3 linked regions of the Homo sapiens genome follow. The protein of the gene in region 2 purifies or fractionates together with the protein of the main gene of each other region. This does not show direct contact. Each region holds a gene or a part of one and is shown on either strand. Other genes may lie near its edges. The genes, in order: PMPCB, PTPN7 and PMPCA.

Region 1 (7,755 bases), on a different chromosome or scaffold from region 2:
ATATTAAGAAAAACCATCATCCATAATTTACTATTTGTCATATTTAGAAAAAAAATAAGATCAGCTGTACCCTCACCCAGAATTCAGTTTCGCTTTTTCACATTTCTGGAACTTACTCTTTTACAACAGACATAATAAAAATAGTACTAAATAATTCCTGATTCTCATGAAAATTACATTATCTGCTGTATAAATAATAACAGTACCTCTTGGCAAGTCTTTAGAGAATGCTTTGGCATAGTATACAGTCTGCTCTCTGGAGGTATAGGCATTGAGATGAGCACCCATATTTTCAATCTCAAGTTCCAGATCTAACTGGGATCTCTTCTTGGTGCCCTTGAAATAAAAGAGGAAAAACAAATTATGCAAACTCCCTTTATACTTCATCTATTCTACTTCAGATAATGAATATGGAGGACATAAGTTAGTTTCATGCAGGGTCAAATTTGGTTTCTAAAGTACATCAGGTATGGTACGATGGCTCACACCTGTAACCCCAGCACTTTGAGAAGCTGAGGCAGGCAGATTGAGCCCAAGAGATCGAGGCCAACATGGCAAAACCCTATCTCTATGAAAAAACAAACAAACATATATATATATATAGATACTCCCAGCTACTCCAGAAGTAAATGTGGGAGGATGGCTTGAGCCTAGGAGGCGGAGGTTGCAGTAAGCAGATTGCGTCACCGCACTCCAGCCTAGGCAACAGAGCCAGATCCTATCTCAAAAAAAATTAAATAAAAAAAAATAAGGTACATCAGGCTTCAGAAATGGTATACGTTCAGATAACTCCTGCATCCCAAGAGAAAGTTTTCATTTCAGCTTTACAAAGCAATTATCACTACTTATTTTAGATACTGTCCTGGAAAAATAAACATAAAACATGTTATACTACTGAAAGAGCTCTCCCTGCCTCTAAAGAATGAGACTTTGTGCTTATTATCTCTTAAAGAGAGTGCATTTTTGTAAAGTCTTACAACTTGCCTTGAAAGCCATATGCTCCAGAAAGTGTGCTGTTCCATTGTTCTTCTCATTTTCGTATCTACTTCCAGCATCAATCCAGAGTCCAACCTTAATGCAATCAAAGAACAATTAAATAAATTCATTTTATTTATTTGAGGTTGGGGGGAACAGTCTCCTTCCTTTTTCTGACAAATGCTTTCTGGTCTTAACACTAAGATTTTCTTGACCTGAGTGAATTGATAGTTCATTCCTGTGAACTATGAGATTTAAAAATTTCGATCAGGATACTGCTGGGTGCTACAAGTATCTACCTGCCACCTTCAATGAGGATTCTTTGCCCAACTCATTAATCCAGCCAATTAATAACTGTAGTATCAAGAACATCAGAGACTGTCAGAAAACTTCGGTTGAAATCCTGGCTCTGTCATGTATTAGCTGAGTTACCTGAACAAAACCATTTAACTTCTCTCACTTCCTTAACTATAAAACAGGTGTGAGGATGCCCACTACAAACAATTGCTTTTTATCAAATAAGACATCAGTAAAAACACTTGGCAGAGTAGCCCTGCAAACATATTTCTTTCATTATTATCAATACTACTGAAAATAAATAATCAATAATAAGCTACAAGAACAAGATGCAGACAATGCAACAGGATACATATGCACCCTGTAACTAAGTACCACTGGAAGAAAAGGTTCACAACTCATGGAAATCTGTCAAGGCAAAATAACTGTCACCCTTTTTGAACCACCAGCCAACGAAAAAGCTAAAGATTAAAATCAACAATTTGCTACGCTAAATGAAGGGTCACTTAGAGAAGGTTGCCTGAGTCACTTACTGTGCATGTTGAGAGCCCAGAGTCTTCCGAAGCTACTCTGAGTCCACTTTCTAAACATGTTACTCTTGTTTCAGGAACATTCAGAACAACTTGGGTAGCAGCCTGTGTACTTCTTAATCTGTTCTCTCCAAAATATAATGACTGGTTGGGGGTAGGAAGTGGAAGAGACAAAGCAAAACACATTACTAATCTGATATTAAATGTTGCTTTTAAAACCAAATCTATTTTAAATAGGCTGTCTCTATAAAAGAATCTTTCTTCTTGAATTTTGGTTCCACTGAGATCTCTGCCTGGCCTAGAAACATCTGTCACCAGCCACTGTCCTAAAGCCAGCAACGTGTTTATAAACATGCCCTTCCCTCAGGGAAGATGAGCAATTATTATCATTACCCAGAGAGAAATTGACTTTATTTCACTACCTCTCCTAGAAATGTTTTATATTCATTATGGAGAAAACAAGCAGGAAAAAAAAAAAGAGAGGGAAACTATGTAAAACTACCTACACACAAGACAAAACTGACACTCGGGTTTTCATTGTTCAAGAAAAGCAACAGGGTTTGGAAATGGTTAAAAAAAAAAAGAGAGAGAGGATAGGAAGATGGGTCGATGTTCAAAATGCAAATGACTGGCTTTTCGGCCAGAAACTATTCGCCTTTCAGCAGTTTTTCTTTGCCCTTATACAAAAGTCTCACATCCCTTTGCTTAAAGTCAGAGGCTCTCTCATGAGAAAAATGCAAATACATAAAAAATTTTACTTCATTGATGTCCAGGTTCGCGGGAAGCCCAGCTGAGGACGAAGTTCAGTCTTAGGCAAAAATAGAACTCTGGAGCGGTACCCATTTCACTTTTTAGTTTTCCCCAATTTGCAAGCACTACGTTTTTAGTGGTCAAACATGCACTCCTCAGTAGCTGGCGGGAGGAGCCGAAAACCAGGGTCATCCCACACGTCACTAGCAGGTCTCCTGGCGGGTGGCCACAAGCCAGTCACCCCCGGCCAGTTCAGCAGCCCCAGGCCGCCTGGCGCCCGGCGGGTCCGGGTCGAGGAGGCCCTGCCCGACCCACTGTTCGGATCTGTGGCGCCGACTCTCAGGTGCGCTGCGCCGGGTCTGGCGAGATCTCGAGGACAGGACCGGCCTGGAGGGAAGCTCACCCGTCCCGCAGCGCCTCGGATTAGAAGACTCTCGCTGAAACCCCAGAGCCGCCGCCGCGCCGCGGATGACAACACCACTCGAGCCGCCGCAGCCGCCATTTCTGCTAGAAGGAAGGTAGAGGATGAAGGATGTGCTTCCGGGGTCGCGACCTGAGGTCCCAGAGCAGGGAGGTGGGCTCCACCTTGTGGCCGTGATGGGAATGACACTCCTCGAAGCGGTTGTGAAAGCAATCAGGGCCCGACCATGATGCTGAGCGGTCTTTACCAAATGAATTGGGGAGTCTGCAGAAGCCCCTTTATCATCAGTTATTTTATCGATCGCCTACTAAGTGCAAGGCACAAATGCGGTGGAATGAAAGGTAACCTGATGCAATATATCTCACTGGTGGATGGAATTGATTGAAAACAGTGGAATAATATTCATAAGTCACTGCCTTTAAAGGAAAAGTCTAGTGGGAGAGACAGATGCCGTGAGGGGAGGAAACGATGTATCCGTGTTGACCACTATCCACTCTTCGAACCTCTACAATATGGCTCATCTCATTCCATAGAAATTGCCCTTGGTAAGGTCACTAATTGCTAAAAGTTGGACACTTTACAGACTTATGTTACAGTCCTGTTGGAGGATTTGACATTGTTGGCTTCTTTGAAATTCTCTTTTCTCAATATATTCTAGAGCTCCACCTCCTCATAGTTCCCTCTGCACCTTCTTGGACTCCTCTTTATTCACAGATCTGTTTTTTGTTTTTGTTTTTGTTTTTGAGATGGAGTTTCACTCTTGTTGCCCAGGCTGGAGTGCAGTGGTGCAATCTCAGCTCACTGCAACCTCTGCCTCCTGGGTTCAAGCAATTCTCCTGCCTCAGCCTCCCAGGTAGCTGGGATTACAGGCATGTGCCACCACGCCTGGCTACTTTGTATTTTTAGTAGAGATGGGGTTTCACCATATTGGTCAGGCTGGTTTTGAACTCCTAACCTCAGGTAATCCACCCACCTCCACCTCCCAAAGTGCTAGGATTACAGGCGTGAGCCACTGCGCCCAGCCCACAGATCTCTCAAGGAACTAAAAATTGCAAATGCTTTTCTAACTCAGGTAGATGGTATAGTGCTTATTTTGCAATTAAGACACTGAAGTCAAATAACTTGCCCCAGGTTACCCTGCTAGTAATAGGTTAACGCCAAAGACTGTGCTGTGAAACACTACATTTTGCCCTAAAAGTTGGTGTTTGCCAGGACTCTAAGCCTCTTCTACTGAACATTCTCCCTCTGGGTTTTTCCCTCCACTTCAAGACCTGTCTGCCCAACCCAGGCCTTTCTCTTGAGCTCCAGCCCACTTAACCATCAACTACTAGGAAACTACACTTGAATACCCCATTGGAAACTCAATATCAACTTGTCCAAAAGGGAATTCACTGTGTCCCCTGAATCTCTTCCCATATTTGCAATGCCAAACAGCCAATCATACCTACATTTGCCCAAAACTCCAAACCACCCAGAAGCTCCTCTCTTTTTCCATCTTCCACATTCAATTGATACACCCCTTTCCTGCCTCTTCAATCTACTCCAGGCCCATTGTCAGTTTTTTCACATTACTACCTATAGGATCTTTTACAAATGAAACTGTTACGGCAGTCCCATTATGAAGAATCCATCAGGGAGCCCTTGGTCACAATAAAGTAAAGGGTCCTTAGCATGGCAGGTGGGGCCCTTCATGATCTGACTCCCATTTATCTTTCCAGACTCATCTCCCTCCACCTACCCGGCTGCTATGCTTCGCAGGTTCAGTCCACAAGACTCATGATGTAATGTAATAAAGGACGACCAAGGTTATTCTCTCATGTTTCTAAAACAAATGTGTGTTAACCAAAAATAAATACAAACATGCATACATATATACAAAAACATGTAGGTATAATCACAGGAAGCACCTAGGAAGTTTTAGCAAGAATTTGTATTCAATTCTAATATACTTCATGGTATTAATTTATTAGTCATTATTTACAGTCAATATCTTAGAACATAAAGCCTACAGAAATTAAGTGCACCAGAGTAGAGCCAAGAAATCAAAGAATTTGACTACTCCCAAAATAGCCCTACACCCACAACAGTATCCATAACTTTTTTTCTTTTTTTTTTTTTTGAGACGGAGTTTCTCTCTTGTTGCCCAGGCTGGAGTGCAATGGTGCAATCTCAGCTCACTGCAACCTCCGCCTCCGGGGTTCTAGCAATTCCCTTGCCTCAGCCTCCCAAGTAGCTGGGATTACAGGTGCCCACCACCACACCCGGCTACTTCTTGTACTTTTAGTAGAAACGGGGTTTCACCAGTTTGGCCAGGCTGGTCTTGAACTCCTGACCTCAAGTGATCCTCCCGCCTCAGCCTCCCAAAGTGCTGGGATTACAGGCGTGAGCCACTGCACCTGGCCTATTTTAAATGATTTCTTCACTGACTGGATTTTACTGGCAGAGTCATTGCTATTTTTGTTGTTTGGAAATTTTAATCATGGATGTCATATTCCTTTAATTCTTTCATGTTTGAGGATGTCTGCTTTTATCTTTATACTTGAATGACATTTTTGTCTGGATTTAATATTGTTGGGTCACAGTTTCATTTTCTCAGAATTTTATAAACATTACTCCATTATGCTCTTGAGTTAAATGTTTTGGAGAAGTCTGAGGCTAGCCAGATTTTTTCTTTTTTTACCACCCTTAAATGTGACCTGTTTTATCTGCCTAAAAACCTAAAAAATTATTCTTGAAGTTCAGTAACTTAACTAGGCTATATCTTAATGTTGAGTAATTTTTGTGTTGTGATTTTTATCAAAATTTTCAAAAACATAATATGTTTTCATTCTGCAGTTTCACTTCTTCCTTCATTTTAGAGAAAGTCTCTTTGAATACATATTCTGGCATTCCATTCAGTATGTTATCTTTTCAAGGACTGCAGCTCTCCTTATGCTGAATGACTTTATCTGTCCTTCATATTTATTAGCATCTCTCTAACTTTTTAAAGCTTTGTCATTTTCCTCTACTTTTTTTGTGATTATCTCAAGACACAAGTAGGCCTACGCAAACATGCCCTACTAATTTTTAGCAAACGTGCAGAGGCAATTCAATAGATGAAGAATAGCATTTCAACAAATGCTGCTGGAACAATTAGATGTTCATATCCACGGCTCCCCGCTCCCCAACTCCCAATGAACCTAAACCTCACACTTTATACAAAAATTAACTCAAAATAAATCATGGATGCAAATATGTGACATAAAACTATAAAACTTTTAGAAAAACACGTAGGATAAAATATTTGGGATATAGGAATAGACAAGGAGTTTTTAGACCTGATATCAAAAATATAATGCTTAAAACAAGATTAAAGCCAGGCGCGGTGGCTCACGCCTGTAATCCCAACACTTTGGGAGGCCAAGACAGGCAGATCACCTGAGATCAAGAGATCGAGACCATCCTGGCCAACATGGTGAAACCCCTTCTCTACTAAAAATACAAAAATTAGCTGGGCATGGTGGCACGCACCTGTAGTCCCAGGTATTGAGAGGCTGAGGCAAAAGAATCGCTTGAACCTGAGAGGCAGAGGTTGCAGTTAGCTGAGATCGTGCCACTGCACTCCAACCTGGTGACAGAGGAAAACTCCATCTCAAAACAAACAAACAAACAAAAAAAACAAGATTAAAAGCTTTTGCTCTAAAAAAGATGCTGTTAAGAGGATGAAAAGACAAGCTACAGACTGGGAGAAAATATTTGCAAACCACATATTCAGCAAAGGACCTGTGTCTGAATTATGCAAAAAAACCCTCTCAAAAACAGTGAAAAAAAATGGGCAAAAGACATGAACAGACATTTCACTGAAGGAGAAATACAGATGGCAGATAAGCACATGAAAAGATGTCCAATATCATCAATCATTACAAAATGCAAATTAAAATGATGAGCTATCGCTACACATGTAGCAGAATGGCTCAAGTGAAAAACAGCAATAACACCACATGCTGGCAAGGATATAGAAAAACAAGATCACTCATACATTACTAGTGGGAATATAAAACTCCAGAGTAGTACAGCCACTTATTATACAACCCAGTAATTGAACTCCTGGGCATTTATCCCAGAAAGATGAAAACTGAAGTTTACACAAAAACATCTACACATATATTCATAGCAGCTTTACTCATGATAGCCAATAATTGGAAATAATGCAAATGTCCTTCAACAGGTGAATGGTTAAACACACTGTGGTACATTCGTACCACGGAATACTACTCAGCTCTCAAAAGGAATGAACTACTGATAAATGCAACAACTTGAATGGGCCTCAAGGGAATTATGACAATACCAAAAGGTTATATGCTATATGATTCCATTTATATAACATTCCTGAAATGACAGAATTATAGAGATGGAGAATAGACTCGTGATTCCCCAAGGGTTGGACTGGGGAGGGGAGAAGCGCAGGGACAAGAGGGAGATGAGTATGGCTATGAAAGCGTGGCATGAGAGGTTCTTGAAGCAATGGGACCATTCTCTATTTCAACTGTGCTGCTAGTTACACGAATGTACACATGTAAAATTGCATAGCATTAAATACACACAAATGAACGCACATAAAACTGGTAAAATATGAATCAGTTCAGTGTATCGTATCGACGTCAATTTCCTGGTTGTGATATTGTTTCTATTCATGCAAGATGTTATTGTTGGGGCAAACTGGATGAAAAGTATATGGGATCTCTCTGTATTATTTCTTACAGCTACAGGTGGACCTACAATTATCTCAAAATAAAAAGTTTA
Region 2 (7,791 bases):
CAGGGCCTGGCCCAGGGTACATATCTGCAAACATTATTATTGCTGCTGTTGTGATTCTTGCTCCTTCTTCCCCCTTTCTCTGCTGAGAGAAGATGTGCCAAGCAAGGTTGATCTTCCCTGGCTGAAACTGTGTACTTTGTCCTCTGAAGTTCTCTAGCCCCAGGGACTGTACCCGACTCCCTTCATCCCAGCAGCAGTTCTTACTTGGCAAGATGGTCTTGTATCGGTCCTTGGAGGCGTGGCCAGGGATGTCCAGGTCTTCGGGGCTGACAAAGTTTGAAGGGATCTTCTGGCAGGGGGAGGAAATGGGTGAGCAGCTGACTCCTAGCCTCCTTTTCTCTCCTTCTACCTTTTTCTAGAACAGCTGGACTCTGGCCATTCCTTCTTGACAATAGTATGTAGGCCTAGATGGGGTGGGGGCAGAAGGGGAAGCCTGGGGGCAGCCCCTCCCTCAGCCCTGAAGTTCTCTTTCCTAAGGGGCCCAAAGGGGAGACTTGCCCAGGGTGCCCGTGAGAGAATGGTTCCAGCTGGCTGCCTCTGATACAGAGGGCAGAGCGATTCAGAGGGGACCCCAATTTCTTACCAAGAATTCTTCTTCCAGTTGCTTGGGGCTGGGTGGCTGGCGCTGAAGGGCCCAGCGGGTAAGGGGGTGTCCAGCAGTGCGCAGAAAGTGTAGGGTGACCTCCCGGGGTGTGTTCACAGAGCAGATGGGTTCTACGGCCCCCAGGGACCGAACGTCCAGCATCAGAGCCACATTGGAGCCCCGCCTGCAGGCATAGCCCACCACTGCCTAGTGAGCACCCAATCATATTTGCTTTTCTTTTCTTTTTATCTTTTCTTTTAGAGATAGGGTCTCTCTCTGTTGCCCAGGTCTGGAGTGTGATGGCACTATTATGGCTCACAGCAGCCTCAAACTCCTGGGCTGAAGCAATCCTCCCACCTCAGCCTCCAGAGTAACTGGGACCACAGGTACATGCTACCACACCTGGCTAATTTAAGTTTTTTTTTTTTTTGGAGAGACAGTGTCTTGTTCTGTTGCTCAGGCTGGTTTTGAACTCCTGGGCTCAAGTGATCCTTCTGCCTTGGCTTCCCAAAGTGCTGGGATTATAGGCATGAGCCACTGTGCCTGACCATATTTGCTTTTCTTACAAGTATTACTGTTATAAGGCACCTCTGAGGGGGCCGCTCTTTATCTTTCCTTTAACCTGGTAGCCCAGTAAATTTAGGGTTTGGGCCCCTGCTGTGTGCCCTCTTTTTTTTTTTTTTTTTGAGAGAGAGGAGGTCTCACTATATTGCCTAGGCCGGTCTCTAATTCCTGGACTCAGGAGATCCTCTCACCTCAGCCTCCCAAAGTGCTGGGATTTTGGGCATGAGCTACCATGCCTGGCTCAGCCCTCTCCCTTTGTCAGCCAGAACAGGGCAGCCTTGAACTCAACTGCTCCTTCCAGCTGCCTGCCTCTTCCCACTCCCAGCCAGGCCCTGTGGCTCCGACATGCATCCAGCACCAAGAAGGCTGTGGGCCTTGCCTGGAATTTAGGGAGCAGGCTCATGGTTGATATGAAACTCTGTGCTCCAGACATGCAAAAGACATGCAAATGAGCACTACTGGTTTCCTTTCCAAATTGGAGTCAACAACTGAGGGCCCTCTGGACCCTGCTGTCAGAGCTGGAGGGGCAGATGGAAGGAAGGGAGGAGCGGAATGGGGGCTCAGGGCTCGGAAGACCCCTCCCCCAGGGAAGATCTCACCTCTCCTGCAGTCGCACATGCTTCTTGGCTGGCGTTTTTTCAGGCGGAGGCTGGGTCATGGCTGCCCCCAAAGACAAGGTCAACGGCTGTGCTCTGGAGCGCCCCCCATGGGCTTGGACCATGCTGAGGTGGGGTGCTGGGCCCAGGGGAGGCTCACTCAGCCATGAGGTCTGCCTGAAAGACAGGGCCCTCCGCTGCTGTTCTCTGGCCTGCCTGATTGGCCAGAAGGAGGCTCCCATGCCAGGCCAGGTTTGCACTCTGTTTTCACTGGGGCGTCTTCTGTTCCCCAAGAGGTGGCCTCATTTTCACTAAGGGAAGGACAGGATCTATTTGGTGGGACCCAGGGCAGAAGGCAGTCTCGGGGTAGAGTAACGGCAAGATAAAGGGTAGAGATTGTGGATGAAGATAGGAAAGAATCCAGAAGGAGGAAAAGAGAGAGGGGAGAGAGGCCACACACCAGAGTACACAGGGCTCTGAGCAGGTCCAAGTGGGAGAAGGCAAGGGAGGAAACAGAAAATATGTGTTCTCTAGGACGGAAGGGAGAAAGCACGCAGAAGCCATCTCTGAGCTAACCAGTGGGCCTTCCCCTGAACAGAGAATGGAGGCCTCCAGCAGTGTTGGAGCTGGTTGGGCAGCCAGGCAGGCGGGCTCCTGGACCCCAGCAGGGTCCTCTCCTAACTGCTGCTGTTCCACTCCCAGGTCTGTTTCTGGCTTCTGGGGTCTCTGTCCAGGGAGGTAGGCTGGAGGTGTTTCCTTCCTCCTCCTGCCCATCCCCCCGTCTCCCGCCTCTGTAACCGTCACAGGAAATGGCCTCACCAAGCCCTTGAACGACAGCGCATGGTGAGGCGACAGCTGGGGGCAAGACAGGAGGCATGGAGGTGGTGGGACCATCTCCTCTTGGGGGCAGTCCCTATCTCCCAGAGCCAGGGTCACAGTGGGCGAGGTGGCGGGGGTGTTGAATCACCAAGGCAGCAGGGACGGAGGTGAGGGGACAGAATGGGCCTGGCACAGGTGTGAGTGGTAGAGCGAGGGTCTCTGGTAGCAGAAAAGGTCCCTTCAGCCTCTGCTCTCCTTGTAGCTCCCTGTGGCTTCCCTGCTCACCCCCGTCTTGGGGACATCAGGTCTGTGAGCACCCATACCCCAGCCAGGCACTGTGGCGCCCCACTCGCCCTCCCGCACTCCCTCCTAGAGATGCCCTCTTATATCCCCGGAGTTCGCACCCCCCGGGGCCACAGGACTCCCAGTCCCCCCTTCAGATACTTACTGAAGCAGCTGTGGCCCCCAGGCTGCCTCTTGCCAGCTGTCTGTCTGTCTGTCGGTCTGTCTTTGAGGGCTGAGAAGGCTCCAGGAAGCCAGCTTCCTCCCTCCGCCCCTCCTTGCTGCCACCCACGCACACCCCAGCTGCATTCTGCCCTCCTGTGCCTGCTGCCGCTGCCACCAGGGGTCGGCTGCCTCCCGCCTGTGCCCTTCTGGGGCCCAAGGCCCCGTTCCCTGGGAATGGGTGAGGGGCCAGGCCTTCCCGACCATCCTGCTTTCCCCAGCTTCCAGACCCTCTCCCCTCTTCTGTGTTTCTCCTCTGGGTCTTTGTCACATCCAGCCGCTGCCTACTTGCTGGGCACAGCTCGCCTGACCCCCAGCTCTGTGCTGTCCCACAAAGAACCCAAGGCTCTCCTGCTCAACCTGACCTTGGCCGGAGGCTTATTTCTCCTTCTCTGCTTCTGCCCCACAGCCCTCTCCCTCAAGGCCCTCTCCCTCAAGGCCCTCTCCCTCAAAGCCCTTGCTGCTTCAAGCCTTGGGAATTCATGGCCAAGCACAGACCACATCTTCCCAGAGCAGATGTGGCACAGACTCGGGGTGGGGAAAAAGAAGAAGCAAGAATCCATGCCTCACAATGTGAAGGAAAGGGCCGGGGCCAGGCCAAAAAGGTCGTCTCCACGCCTGTGCCACGGCCCAGCTCTCCACAGCCCACGGCCTGAGTGTAGGCCAGCCCAGCAGGAAGCAGATAGCAGAGTCCACTTGTGGGAGGGAGTCCGAGGGGCTTCCCCTGGGCCCTCAGCCCCCTGCAGGCCTCCTCCCAGAACCCTGACATCTACTTAGAAGACTTACAGACAGTGGACAGTCTCTGGCCCTCACACCAGGGGACTCCCATGTCCTCTTCGCTGCTGGGGTGCCTGGATGCCTGGGACCTGAAGGGTGGCCCCCAAGTCCAAGACTCCTCTGCCCACTGCCCCTGCCTGACCTTGGCAGGCTCCTTGCGGGCCAGCAGCCCAGCCGGTTCATGCTCGCTGCACGCCTCCTTTTACCTTGTAACATTTCAAACGCCCTTCCCTTCCCGGCCCCCAACATGCACAATCCACGTCCTCTTTCTTCCTCCCACTTCCCTGATTCAGCTGTCAAATGGTGACAGCAAAAAAGAAATGAGGTACCCTAGGCACAGGGGGTAGGCATGCCGGAGGGGGTGGTCGGGAGGGGGCTGGCCTTCTGCTGGCCCCTTGAGGAGGAGGGTTGAGACGAAGAACAAGAACAGCCCCCAGAGGCTCAGAAGGCCTCCCAGCACCCGCCCTTGCTCTTGGCAGTGGGGACAGGGGCTGGCTCTTTTTTGAGCCCCTCCATGGCCAGCTGATCCTGGCACCTCCTTCCCTGCAGCCTGCGTTCCTCTCCGGAGTGGGTGGGTTTCCCTGAGGAGGAGGCCGATTAGGGCTGGGAAAGGGGTTGGTTCCCGTGCTCAGGACAGACTGGAGGGAAGCAGGAACCTGGGAATCCCTAACATGCTTGCGAGCAGTGACCTGGAGACTGGCCTCTGCCTCACCCCCCACACCAGTCAGTGTTTCCACTGGTGGGTAGTGGGGGCCCTGGGGACACAGGAGGGGGCAGGTGGGGGTTGGAAAGAGGGCCCGGCTCTGAGCCTATGCTGATTGTTATCAAGAACAGGAAGCTAGGACACCACAGGGGTGGGAGGAGGAAGCGGCAAAGCCCTCCCCACACAGGTCTGCCTGGTCCCCCCAAGTTTCCAGGGTCTGAGCCCTGTTGGCTGTGAGCCCACCCCTTTCCCCCACAGACTGAGGCCTAGCAGTGGCTGGACAGTTGGAAGCTGAGCTTCACAGCAAGGAAGCTGGGAGCCAGGCGATGGGGAAGATAGTTGGGGTTGGGGGTGGGGGTAGTGGCTGAGCATTAGGCAAGACCTCTCAAAGATCCCCTGTTCCCTCTGGGTGGATGTGGGGTAGAGGGGACAGTCACTCCTTGGCTCCTGCCCACTCCTTCTTCCCCTGTGCTTAGGGATACCTGGACATCCATGGAGGTGTGTGGCCAGAGCTCATGAGGGCTGAGGATGCCAACTGCAACCTCAGATGGCACAAGACATGCGTCATCGCCCTGCACCTCCCCCTCCCCAGCCTGGCCTGGTGACTTGGGACGCCCCTCTCTGCCCTCTCTGGAGTGGACTCTGTCCCATCCGGGCTGTTGGAAGGCTCCTGGGCGTGACTCCCTCTCCCCTCCAGAACCTTCCCACCCCTGGGGCCAAAAGGTCACAGCAGCTCTCAAACTTCCATCACTCGAATCGATTTGTGTTCCTGGGTTGAGATTTAGGTTCTAGCCACCCTCGACTCCAGAGAAAGTATAGTAATAGTTGGAAATCAGAAAGATCTATGCATAATGAGTCTAAACGTAGCTTATTAACTGTGTGACCTTGGGCAAATTGCTGAGTCTCAGGCTCCTCCTCAGCTTCCTCCCTCCACTGGGGGATGATCATAGCACCTCCCTTGTCAGCCCATGGTGTGCTTTGCTCACGGAGGAGAGGTTGGGAGTCAGCAGCCAGAGGACCGAGGAGCTGGGAGGAGCTGGCTGGGGAAGTGGGTCTGGGAGCAGCACAGGGTGAGGAGGTCATGGCTGCCGGGTCTCACCTCTCACCAGCCTCCCTCTTCCTCCTCACTGCTGACTTTCTCCCTGAACCCGGGCTGCCGGGGCACTTCCAGCCGAGCACTGAGGAAGTGCAGGAAGGAGTCACTCCCAGGGGTCTCCCAGCATCCCGGGTGGGACAGAGTCCACTCCAGGGAGGACAAAGAGGGGTGTCCCAAGCCACCAGGCCAGGCTGGGGAGGGACTGGTGCAGGGCATGATGCATCTTGAGAGTCAGCCTTGTCCCATCTGAGGCTGTGGTGGGTGCCCTCAGCCCTCCCAAGCTCTGGCCACACACGTCTTGACTCTCTTGTTTTCCCCTCTAGTGATTCCCAGTTCCAGGGCTGTGAGCCGCAGCTCCCTGCCCCAAGTGTCAGAAGCGCCCCCCTCCCTAGCCCAGGCCCGGGGAAAGGCGGACATTACATCTGGAATTCCCAGAAGTCGTTGCTCTTTGCCAGCCCCTAGGGAGTAGGGAGCTCCTTGCTGGGGAGCAGTTGGCCCCCAGAGGCAAAGGCTGCCACCTTTTAACAATCCAAGGGGAGGATCCTGGGGAGAGAGTCAGCTGCCTGGGGCCAGGACTGCTGGGTCCTGCACACTCCAGCTGCTCTGCCCCCTTCCTAGCTGCCCTCCTCGGCTCCTCTCTGGAGAAGCACTAGGATCTCGGGTGGCTGTTCCTCCATCCTTCCCACCCCCAAAACCCTAGGCCAGCCTGAGCTGGCTTGTTCTGCCCCAACTTTGTAGGCCCTGGCTTGTTCCTGTTTGTGTCGGGGAGACAGAAACACCAAGAACTGGATCTGGGAAGCCTCATCCCACAGGAAGCAGGGAGACAGCAGGGGAGACAGGGTGAGTGGGGCAGGGAAGTGCTGTTAAGGGCATGGGATAAGTCCAGGCTGACCAGAGTGACAACTGCACCCCTGTCTCAAAGCTTCAACCCTGTGCCGGGCCAGCTAGGGACCTCCTGCTACCTTTTGGATGAAGGGGAACATCCCATACCCTTTACCCCTGGCTGAGAGGACCAGTAATCCAGCCCTGCTTGGCACTGGGATGCCAGGGCCAGCCTGCCAGGAGGTCCAGGAAAGTGCCTGGTTCTTTGCCCGATGCTGGAACTCAGGACCCTGGCAGGAAGGTTTTAGGATAGAAGAGTCCCTCCCTCTCTCCCAAGCCCAGAGCCAGCCAAATGGACATCTATTCTACAATGTGGCCTTTTCTTCCCAGGGGCTCCCGTCTCCCTCCCGCTCTGTGTTGTCCCCGGACACCCACTCATACATCCATCCAGACAGGTGTGTACACCCTCATGGCCCACGTTTGCACAAATGCACATGCACAGTGTCAATCCACACATGACCAGCCCCTCCCCTGCTCTCCCATGGCCTGGTCAGGGGGACCTAGGCCTTCCCCCACTCCCTGGCCACCTTCCCCATAGTATAGGCAGCAGGGGGAGTGGGCGACTTGGCTGTCCTGAGCCACCCTGCCCCTCTGCTGCCCGGTGATTATCTTCCTCCAGTGTGGGGGCTGCCCAAGGCCAGGCTTCAGGCTGTGGGAGAGCAGGGAGGGGCCGGAAGAGCGCTGCCTGGGACAGCTGTAGGCCAGGCCAGTTCACATTTGGAAGCCAGCACTCCCAGACCTGCCCCTTGCTCTCTCCTCTGCCTCCTGGCTGGCTCTCTCCAGAAGGAATCAGTAAGGTGCCCTGAGACCTCAGGGTAGCGGGGGGGAACCCCAGGGGTTCTCTAGGGAGAGGATGTGGGTTTGTCTGTGGGGGTGGTTGCTGGGGAGGAGATACAGCCCTCGTGGTACCTTTTCTTTTGCTGAATGGAGACGTTTGGGCTGGGGAGGCTGCTGCTTATTTATTTTATTTTTTTTGAAACGGAGTCTCACTCTGTCACCAGGCTGGAGTGCAGTGGTGCCATCTCAGCTCACTGCAACCTCTAACTCCCTGGTTCTAGTGATTCTCCTGCCTCAGCCTCCCGAGTAGCTGGGATTACAGGCATGTGCCGCCACACCCAGCGAATTTTTTGTATTTTTAGTAGAGACGAGGTTTCACCATTTTGGCCAGGATGGTCTTGATCTCCTGACCTGGTGATCCGCCCACCTTGGCCTCCCAAAGTCCTGAGATTACAGGCATGAGCCACCATGCCCAGCTTATTTATCAGAA
Region 3 (7,644 bases), on a different chromosome or scaffold from region 2:
AAGCAGAGATGCTGGGTCAGTGCAGCATCCACCTGCAGCCACTACAGAGGGAGACCACAGACGGAGGCAGGCACTTTTCAAAGACCTGTGGTCACAGATGCCAGTTAATTTTACTCAGAGGCCGGGGGCAGTGGCTCGCGCCTGTAATCCCAGCACTTTGGGAGGCCGAGGTGGGCGGATCACAAGGTCAGGAGTTTGAGACCAGCCTGGCCAACACGGTGAAACCCCCGTCTCTACTAAAAATACAAAAATTAGCCAGCAGTGGTGGCGGGCACCTGTAGTCCTAACTACTCGGGTGGCTGAAGCAGGAGAATCACTTGAACTCGGGAGGCGGAGGTTGCAGTGAGCCGAGATCGTGCCACTCCACTCCAGCATGAGCAACAGAGTGAGACACTGTCTCAGGAAGAAAATAATTTTTCTTTTTTTTGAAACAGAGTTTCGCCCGTCGCCTAGGCTGGAGTACAGTGGCGTGACCTCGGCTCACCGCAACCTCCGCCTCCCGGGTTCAAGCGATTCTCCTGCCTCAGCCTCCCAAGTAGCTGGGACTACAGGCGCCTGCCGCCACGCCCAGCTAATTTTTGTATTTTCAGTAGAGACAGGGTTTCACCATGTTGGCCAGGCTGGTCTCAAACTGCTGACCTCAGGTGATCCACCCACCTCGGCCTCCCAAAGTGCTGAGATTACAGGCGTGAGCCACGGCGCCCAGCTAAAAAATTTTTTTTTTTATTCAGAGCTTATAACCTTTTAGGTGATTATAATTTTTTAAAAATTTTCCTCCTCTTGGAATACTTAGCAAGCTGGCGACTGCAGCCTGCCTTTACTGAGGGTACAGCCCTGTAAGTGCCCAACTGCATCCAATTCACAGCTTCTAGCTCACCAGTCCTCTTTAGCCGGTTCTATTCCCACGTGTAACCAGAAGCAAAGTCAAAGGGAAAGTGGATAGCAGGCTGTCACGCAAATCGCCTTGTCCTGGAAATCAAACCAGGCCACCCAAGAGGTAGGATGGCTCCAGGTTCTCCCCGGGAGAAGCCGCTCGGACAGGCGCTGTGCCAGAGGGCGCCGTGAGGCTCACTTACTGCGTCGTAACTTATCTGCAGCGTCCGCAGGTGCCTGTCTCCCAGAGACTCTCCATGAACCGCAAAGTCTGCGCTAGGACTCCCTGCCGGAGAGGCCGGAGACACGCGAGAATCAGTGTCACTCAACGCCCACGAGGGCAGAGACTCAGGCCCTGCCAGCTCCGACGGGGTGGAGAAAAAGGAAAGGTATGTGCTGCAGGGCGACGTGCCGGCAGGGACCCTCTCGGGGTGAGTCTGCTCGATGGCGGACGGCAGGTAGGCCCCACTCCATCCGGTGTCCTCATCCTCCTCCTCATCCAGGAGGTCACCAGCCCCTGTCGGATCCTCGAAAAATGGCTGCTGATACTCCAGGCCATACCCGCCGGTTTGGGAGGGTGGGGAGTTGTGGTCAAGTCCCAGGGAATGCCTCGAGGCTTCCTAAAAAAAAAAAAAAAAAAAAAACAATGGAGGCCATGCTTCTGACTCGGAGCGCATCTTCCTTTCTGTGTTCTGCCTCGCAACAAGAAGAAAGGCCCAATCTCTCTACCGGAAGGAGCCCAGCAGCTTCTGAGCCCAGAGCTGCTCCCCAGCACTGACGCCTGCCTGCTCTGCCACACTCATGCACGATTCCTCCAAAGGAGGCTGCAGAGGCCGGAACAGAAACGTCCCACAGAGCCATCGCCCACAGTGCCGTGGATTTACCTTTGCATAAATTCTGCTGGCCGGATCCTCTTTCGAGAGGCCGAGGTTCTTGGTCTTCAGAAACTCTCTAAAAGAGAATGGATTTGCCTCTTCCAGATCTTCAAATCTGTCATCTGAAATAACAGACATCACAAATGCATAAAGTCTACTGAAGAGCGTTGAAAGGGAACCTTCCTGTTCACCTGTCTTTCCAGAGCATGGCCACATGTGAGATCGGGCAGCCACGCTTGTCATTCTACCATGACTCAGGCAGCACTAGGAAGTGTGAAGGTGGCTGAAGGTGGGCAGTGACACAGACGTGCGTCTGCATTTGCAATCTTCTCCTTCCACCCCTCGGCCCCTGCTCCCACACTGTGCTGCTCACTAAAGCTCCCCTGGGGAGCTTTAAAACGACCCAAGCCACTCCACTGCACACACCCAGCTCCCTGGTGTGAGGTCAACCTGTGCTAGGAGCTCTCAAAGCTCCTCAGGTGGCCAGGTGTGGTGGCTCACGCCTGTACCCCAGCACTGTGGGAGGTCAAGGCGGGCGGATCACGAGGTCAGGAGACTGAGACCATCCTGGCTAACACGGTGAAACCTCATCTCTACTAAAAATACAAAAAATTAGCCAGGCGTGGTGGTGAGCGCCTGTAGTCCCAGCTACTCGGGAGGCTGAGGCAGGAGAATGGCGTGAACCTGGGAGGTGGAGCTTGCAGTGAGCCGAGATCGTGCCACTGTACTCCAGCCTGGGCGACAGAGCGAGACTCTGTCTCAAAAAACAACAACAACAACCAGCTCCTCAGGTGCTGCAACGCTGGGGACCCAGTGCCCCCTGACCCTCTTCCCGACTTTCCTACCTAGGTAGCCTAAATAACGCCCACTTTTCCCTTCTCCCTCTTGCCACCGCCTTCCCACCCTCCGGGGACTTAAGCAGCCACACTCGACCCTCCCAGCTGTGAGCCCCATGTAAAGCTGGCTCCTGTGGCCCCAGCCCCCCAGGTGGGGCTTCCCCGCTCCCTGATGTCACCTCGCTGCTACTCTAGGATCAAGACTGAACCCTTGAAATCCCACCCCCACCTGCTCTTTTGGGCTCCAGCTACACCACATAGCCAGTCACATTGACAGTCCCACCAGACACGTGCCTGGCACTGTGTTGGATGGAGACAAGAAGAAAAGGTTGCTGAACTACTCTACCTCCAAAATGTGTCCCGTGGGCTCCTGACGGGCTCTGCTTAGAACATTTCCCCTTTCCATAGCCAAAATCTGCAAAGAAACAATGTCACCCACCATGCTGGCAGGAAGTCTTTATGACCTCACATTTGGTTTTTTTCTTTTGCACATGGAGTCTCCACTGCAGTGGTTCTCACAGTCTAGAGAACTTTTTTTTTTTTTTTGAGACGGAGTCTTGCTCTGTCGCCCAAGCTGGAGTGCAGTGGTGCGATCTCGGCTCCCTGCAAGCTCCGCCTCCTGGGTTCACGCCATTCTCCTGCCTCATCCTCCCGAGTAGCTGGGACTACAGGCACCTGCCACCACGCCCGGCTAATTTTTTTGTATTTTTTGTAGAGACGGGTTTTCACCCTGTTAGCCAGGATGGTCTCAATCTCCTGACCTCATGATCCGCCTGCCTCGGCCTCCCAAAGTGCTGGGATTACAGGCGTAAGCCACTGCGCCCGGTCAGCCGAGAAAACTTTAAAAAAAACACAAGCTCCCAGACTTGTGACCCTGGAGATGGCCTGACTTGCAGACTGGCCCTGGTGTCCGTGGTCTGAAAGCGGCTCCTCAGCAGATTTTGAAGCCCAGCCGGGGCAAGCGCGTCCTCTTGTCTTGTGACAACCCCCGAATGTCCTCAGATCCTGGCATAACCACACAAACACTCCTGCACACCCCGGGCACCCAGCAGCACTTCTGCTTGGGTAGAACGAGGACGAACCAGATCTGGCCACTGCCCGGCTGTGGAGGCAGATGGAATGCTCCAGCTCGGTTTCCAATCACTGCCCACTAGGTGAAGGCACCCCGACTCCAGCCCCACGAGGAAAGCGGGCGGGCTCCTGTGCTCCCCGGGCACTAACCATCCTGTACTGGAACTGTCTGTCTTGGGGGAGGTCTCCCCGCAACCAGACTGTGAGCTCCTAGCAGGGGACTCCGCCTTTGAATTCCGAGTGCCTGGCACGCAGTGAGCGCTCTGCACATTGATGGGTCAATGGACGAGCTCGTGCTGCAGCGGAGGTGCCACACGTGGCGCGGGAACTGGAAGCGTCCCCGGGGCCGGCGCCCTCGTCTCTCACCTGTGTCTCCCACGGAAGCCAGCACCGGGCTGGGCACATAGCACATAAAGGCCGGCCGAATGCCGAAGAAGGGGGAGTCCAGGTCCCTGCCATGGGGGCGCTCACAATTTAGCTGGGGGAGACAAGACCGGCGCTCATAGAACGCTGGAGCTGGAAGCAACGACAACAGCGACTTTACTGCGTGCCGGGGCGGCCGCCGCCCACCTGGACCGCTGGACTCGGCCCCTGCCCCGCTCACCGTCGGGAATGGCGAGGCTCCGGGCTCGGGACAGCGGGGTGGCGCCCGGGCGGCGCTGGTAGCCCGACATCGCCGCCGGCCCGGCGGGGCACGACCTGCCTAGCCCGGCAGCGGCGGCTCCATGGCCCCGGCTCCGCCCGTGCCGCGGCCCGCGTCGCCCGCCCCCGTCGCCCGCCCCCGTCGCCCGCCGCTCGGCCGCCCCCGCGCCTCCGAGCCTCTCGCCGCTGCTTCCGCTCCGAGCACCGAAAGCGCGTGCCTGAACGCCTTGGGCCGTCGGCGAGGGGGAGGGGAAGCCGTGGGCGGAAGCGGAAGTGACGACTGAAGCGGGGCGGAGACGCAAGATGGCGGCTGTGGTGCTGGCGGCGACGCGGTTGCTGCGGGGCTCGGGTTCTTGGGGCTGTTCGCGGCTGAGGTGAGCCAAAGGCGAACCAGGCTTCGGCCTGGGGCGGGGGCGGCTCGAGTCTTTCTGGACGCTCCGTCTTCGGTTTCTACAGGTGACATGGCGCCCGTGGGACGGGCTCGCACTTCGGGACACTGGTGTCCCCGAGGCGACGGGGGCCCTGCCTTGCTTTGCGCCTCGAGCCCGGGGACGCAGTCCCATCTGTCTCTCCTCTCCCCGGCTGCTGGGTCCTCTCCCCCCCTCACTTCCCGGGTCGACGGGCCTTCTCCGAGGCCATGCCTCATATTTGCCCCCGCGCTTCACCTACCGCGTGCTCCTTCAGGAGGCTGAGCCGGTGGGGGCCCAGCTCTGTTAGACCCGCAGGGTTCTGACACCAGGGTCCAGGCTCTCGGTTGCTGCGGTCTGTCCGTTGATCTCTGACGTTTAAGAACCCTTTCCGTACCCACCGCTCCTCCCACCCAAGTGACCGGGCCTGCCTTTCCCCACGCTGGAACTTTGTTCCGACAGCACAGGCGTCGCCCCTCCCCACACAACGAGCGCCGTTTCAGGGGTGCGGAGGTGCTGCCTCCAGGAGATGGATACAGGCTGGAGCGTAAACAAAATATCGGCAGTCGCGTAAATGCTTTGGAGTAAACAAGCAGCCTTTCATGATAGAAAATAGCAGGAAAGACTAGACTGGTGAGGGATAGTCCTCCATCAGGGTGACATTTAAGGGAAGAGCTGAAGAATGAAAGAAGGGGTAGGCATGGGCAAAGGGCAAGCCCTGGAACGGTGAAGAAGCTTTGGGGTTGATGAGTCAAATGTGTTCCAGGAATTGACAAGAATCAGTGTGACCAGGACCTATGGGAGTGTGGGGGTTCAAGAGATGAGTTTGGAGAGGGAGACAGAGGCCAAGTCACACCCCGCCTTCGGACCAGGTTAATAAGGGATATGGCTTTTATCCAAGACTTCGGTGGTGCTGTTGGAGGGCAGAGCTGTTAAGTGCTTTATGTGTACAAACTGCACTTAGAGTGAGTTACTGTTAATAAGCCCTGTTTTTACAGAGATAGCAACTAAGACCCAAAGGACGGAACCAGCTTGCTCCAGGTCCCGTGGCTGAGCCTTTGTTGTCAGCCTCTGCTTTGTCTTCCAAAGTCTGTAGAAATAAGTCCTGTAGAAAGGCAGATGCTCACTTTTAACCCAGACAAAACATAACTAACCGCACCTAACAGGTCATCACAGGTTTGTTGTCTCAAGCCTGTTGTAACTGGGCCGCTTTCTCTGTTTTAGGTTTGGACCTCCTGCGTACAGACGGTTTAGTAGTGGTGGTGCCTATCCCAACATCCCCCTCTCTTCTCCCTTACCTGGAGTACCCAAGCCTGTTTTTGCTACAGTTGATGGACAGGAAAAGTTTGAAACCAAAGTAACCACATTGGATAATGGGCTTCGCGTGGCATCTCAGAATAAGTTTGGACAGTTTTGTACAGTAGGAAGTAAGTACTGTTGTGTTGTCGTGGGTGGTCCCGCAGTTTTAACATGCACATGCTTTAGTTGACTGTTAGTTGTAATTAGCATGCCAATTATGAATTGTACCCTGAGTGGAAACAAAGTGTACGATTTCATAAATGTTGAGCTACACATATACCTGTGAAACCATCAGCACAATCACCCTCATGTAATTAAATCTGATTATCATGTCATATTGACATCTTAAAATGTTTCTCTTGATTAAATCTTATTTTGAATATCTGATGTAACCTGTCAATTTTCTTTTTACTACTAGTTCTTATCAATTCAGGATCGAGATATGAAGCGAAATACCTTAGTGGAATTGCTCACTTTTTGGAAAAATTGGCATTTTCGGTCAGTACCCAGTTTTGTAATTTTTTAGACTATACTTTTGAAGGATGTTTGAGATTTTTCTTGTCTATAATGGTTATTTTAATAAATTATCAAGTTGCTAAGTTAATGTTAATAAAAGACTTTTAAGTTAAAAGATAATTTTTGTATGTGTGTTAAAAGCAAAAGTAGATTTTAAAAAAAAATTGTGTTTCAGGGATAGCCTGGATTGCTTATTTAGGTTTCCTTATTTATTTTTACTAGTCTACTGCTCGATTTGACAGCAAAGATGAAATTCTGCTTACGTTGGAAAAGCATGGGGGTATCTGTGACTGCCAGACATCAAGGTACACCAGCTTTTGTGTACAAACTGACTTTGGGTCCTTGGGAACTGACGTTCTTGTCGTTGCTCAGATTCCCTCTGAGCCCCTCCCAGCGGGAGGTGTGGAGATTCACGGGGAGAAGGAGCCCTGTCCTGGATGGAGACTTGGGTGGATGGCGCTTACACAGAGAAGCACAGCCCCCAGGAGCTCAGTTGACCCCCGTCAGTTCCTCCAGGCTGTTGGCTGCATGCCAGGGATGTAGAGCAGGCCCTGTTCCCAGATAGAGCAGAGGGCCTTGCATACGTAATGGACCCCGTAGCCAAAGGCGGTAGGAGCCAGGAGGATGAGTGGCTGACTTGGTCTGGAGTTGGGAAAGGAATCATAGGAAATGCAGGGTTGGGCTGGTTCCAGAAGGAGTTTGCTAGACACACGGGGCACAAGGCATTCCAGACCAGGAGACAGCAGGGGCAAAAGGCACCGAGCCAGGGAGGTGCCGGCTGCTTGGTGGAGGGAGGGGGCAGTGTTGCCTCGAGCACAGTGCAGTGGTCTTTGCATGCCAGGTGTGGAGCTTGTTCAGAAAGCACTGGGCAATGTGAGATGGGTGAATATAGATCACAGATTTTTAAAATTGTTGATTTAAGTTTGAATGCTAAAAAAATTACACATAAAAGACACATTAAATGCTAAGAATTAAAGTTAGCTTGGAGGTAACATATTCATGTTCTAAAACAAGGCCTCTTAATACCCCCTGACTCCCAGCTGCCCCTGCCAGGTTCCTGCCTGGTGTGTTTGATTCTCCGACTCTTGCCTCGAATCTCACTCATCCCAGATGAACTCCTTTCTC

The links.
Region 1: the proteins of PTPN7 (region 2) and PMPCB purify together in Homo sapiens (affinity purification with mass spectrometry, with the first as the bait; 2 studies listed by BioGRID). This does not show direct contact.
Region 3: the proteins of PTPN7 (region 2) and PMPCA purify together in Homo sapiens (affinity purification with mass spectrometry, with the first as the bait; 2 studies listed by BioGRID). This does not show direct contact.

The regions. Positions count from the first base shown.
Region 1 is NC_000007.14:103,292,759-103,300,513, reverse strand, and holds the start of PMPCB (mitochondrial-processing peptidase subunit beta isoform 1 precursor), read right to left. Parts: upstream 3,080-7,755; 5' UTR 3,055-3,079; coding exon 2,956-3,054; intron 1,947-2,955; coding exon 1,806-1,946; intron 1,072-1,805; coding exon 985-1,071; intron 337-984; coding exon 207-336; intron 1-206. UniProt on the Homo sapiens protein: Catalytic subunit of the essential mitochondrial processing protease (MPP), which cleaves the mitochondrial sequence off newly imported precursors proteins. Preferentially, cleaves after an arginine at position P2.
Region 2 is NC_000001.11:202,157,535-202,165,325, forward strand, and holds the start of PTPN7 (tyrosine-protein phosphatase non-receptor type 7), read right to left. Parts: upstream 3,011-7,791; intron 2,456-3,010; exon of another isoform or gene 1,986-2,455; coding exon of another isoform or gene 1,869-1,985; coding exon 1,747-1,868; intron 768-1,746; coding exon 584-767; intron 290-583; coding exon 205-289; intron 1-204. UniProt on the Homo sapiens protein: Protein phosphatase that acts preferentially on tyrosine-phosphorylated MAPK1. Plays a role in the regulation of T and B-lymphocyte development and signal transduction.
Region 3 is NC_000009.12:136,406,069-136,413,712, forward strand, and holds the start of PMPCA (mitochondrial-processing peptidase subunit alpha isoform 1 precursor), read left to right. Parts: upstream 1-4,589; 5' UTR 4,590-4,600; coding exon 4,601-4,671; intron 4,672-5,928; coding exon 5,929-6,131; intron 6,132-6,421; coding exon 6,422-6,501; intron 6,502-6,741; coding exon 6,742-6,824; intron 6,825-7,644. Other genes in the region: ENTR1 (endosome-associated-trafficking regulator 1), read right to left, coding at 1,077-1,493, 1,758-1,870, 3,806-4,171, 4,260-4,329. UniProt on the Homo sapiens protein: Substrate recognition and binding subunit of the essential mitochondrial processing protease (MPP), which cleaves the mitochondrial sequence off newly imported precursors proteins.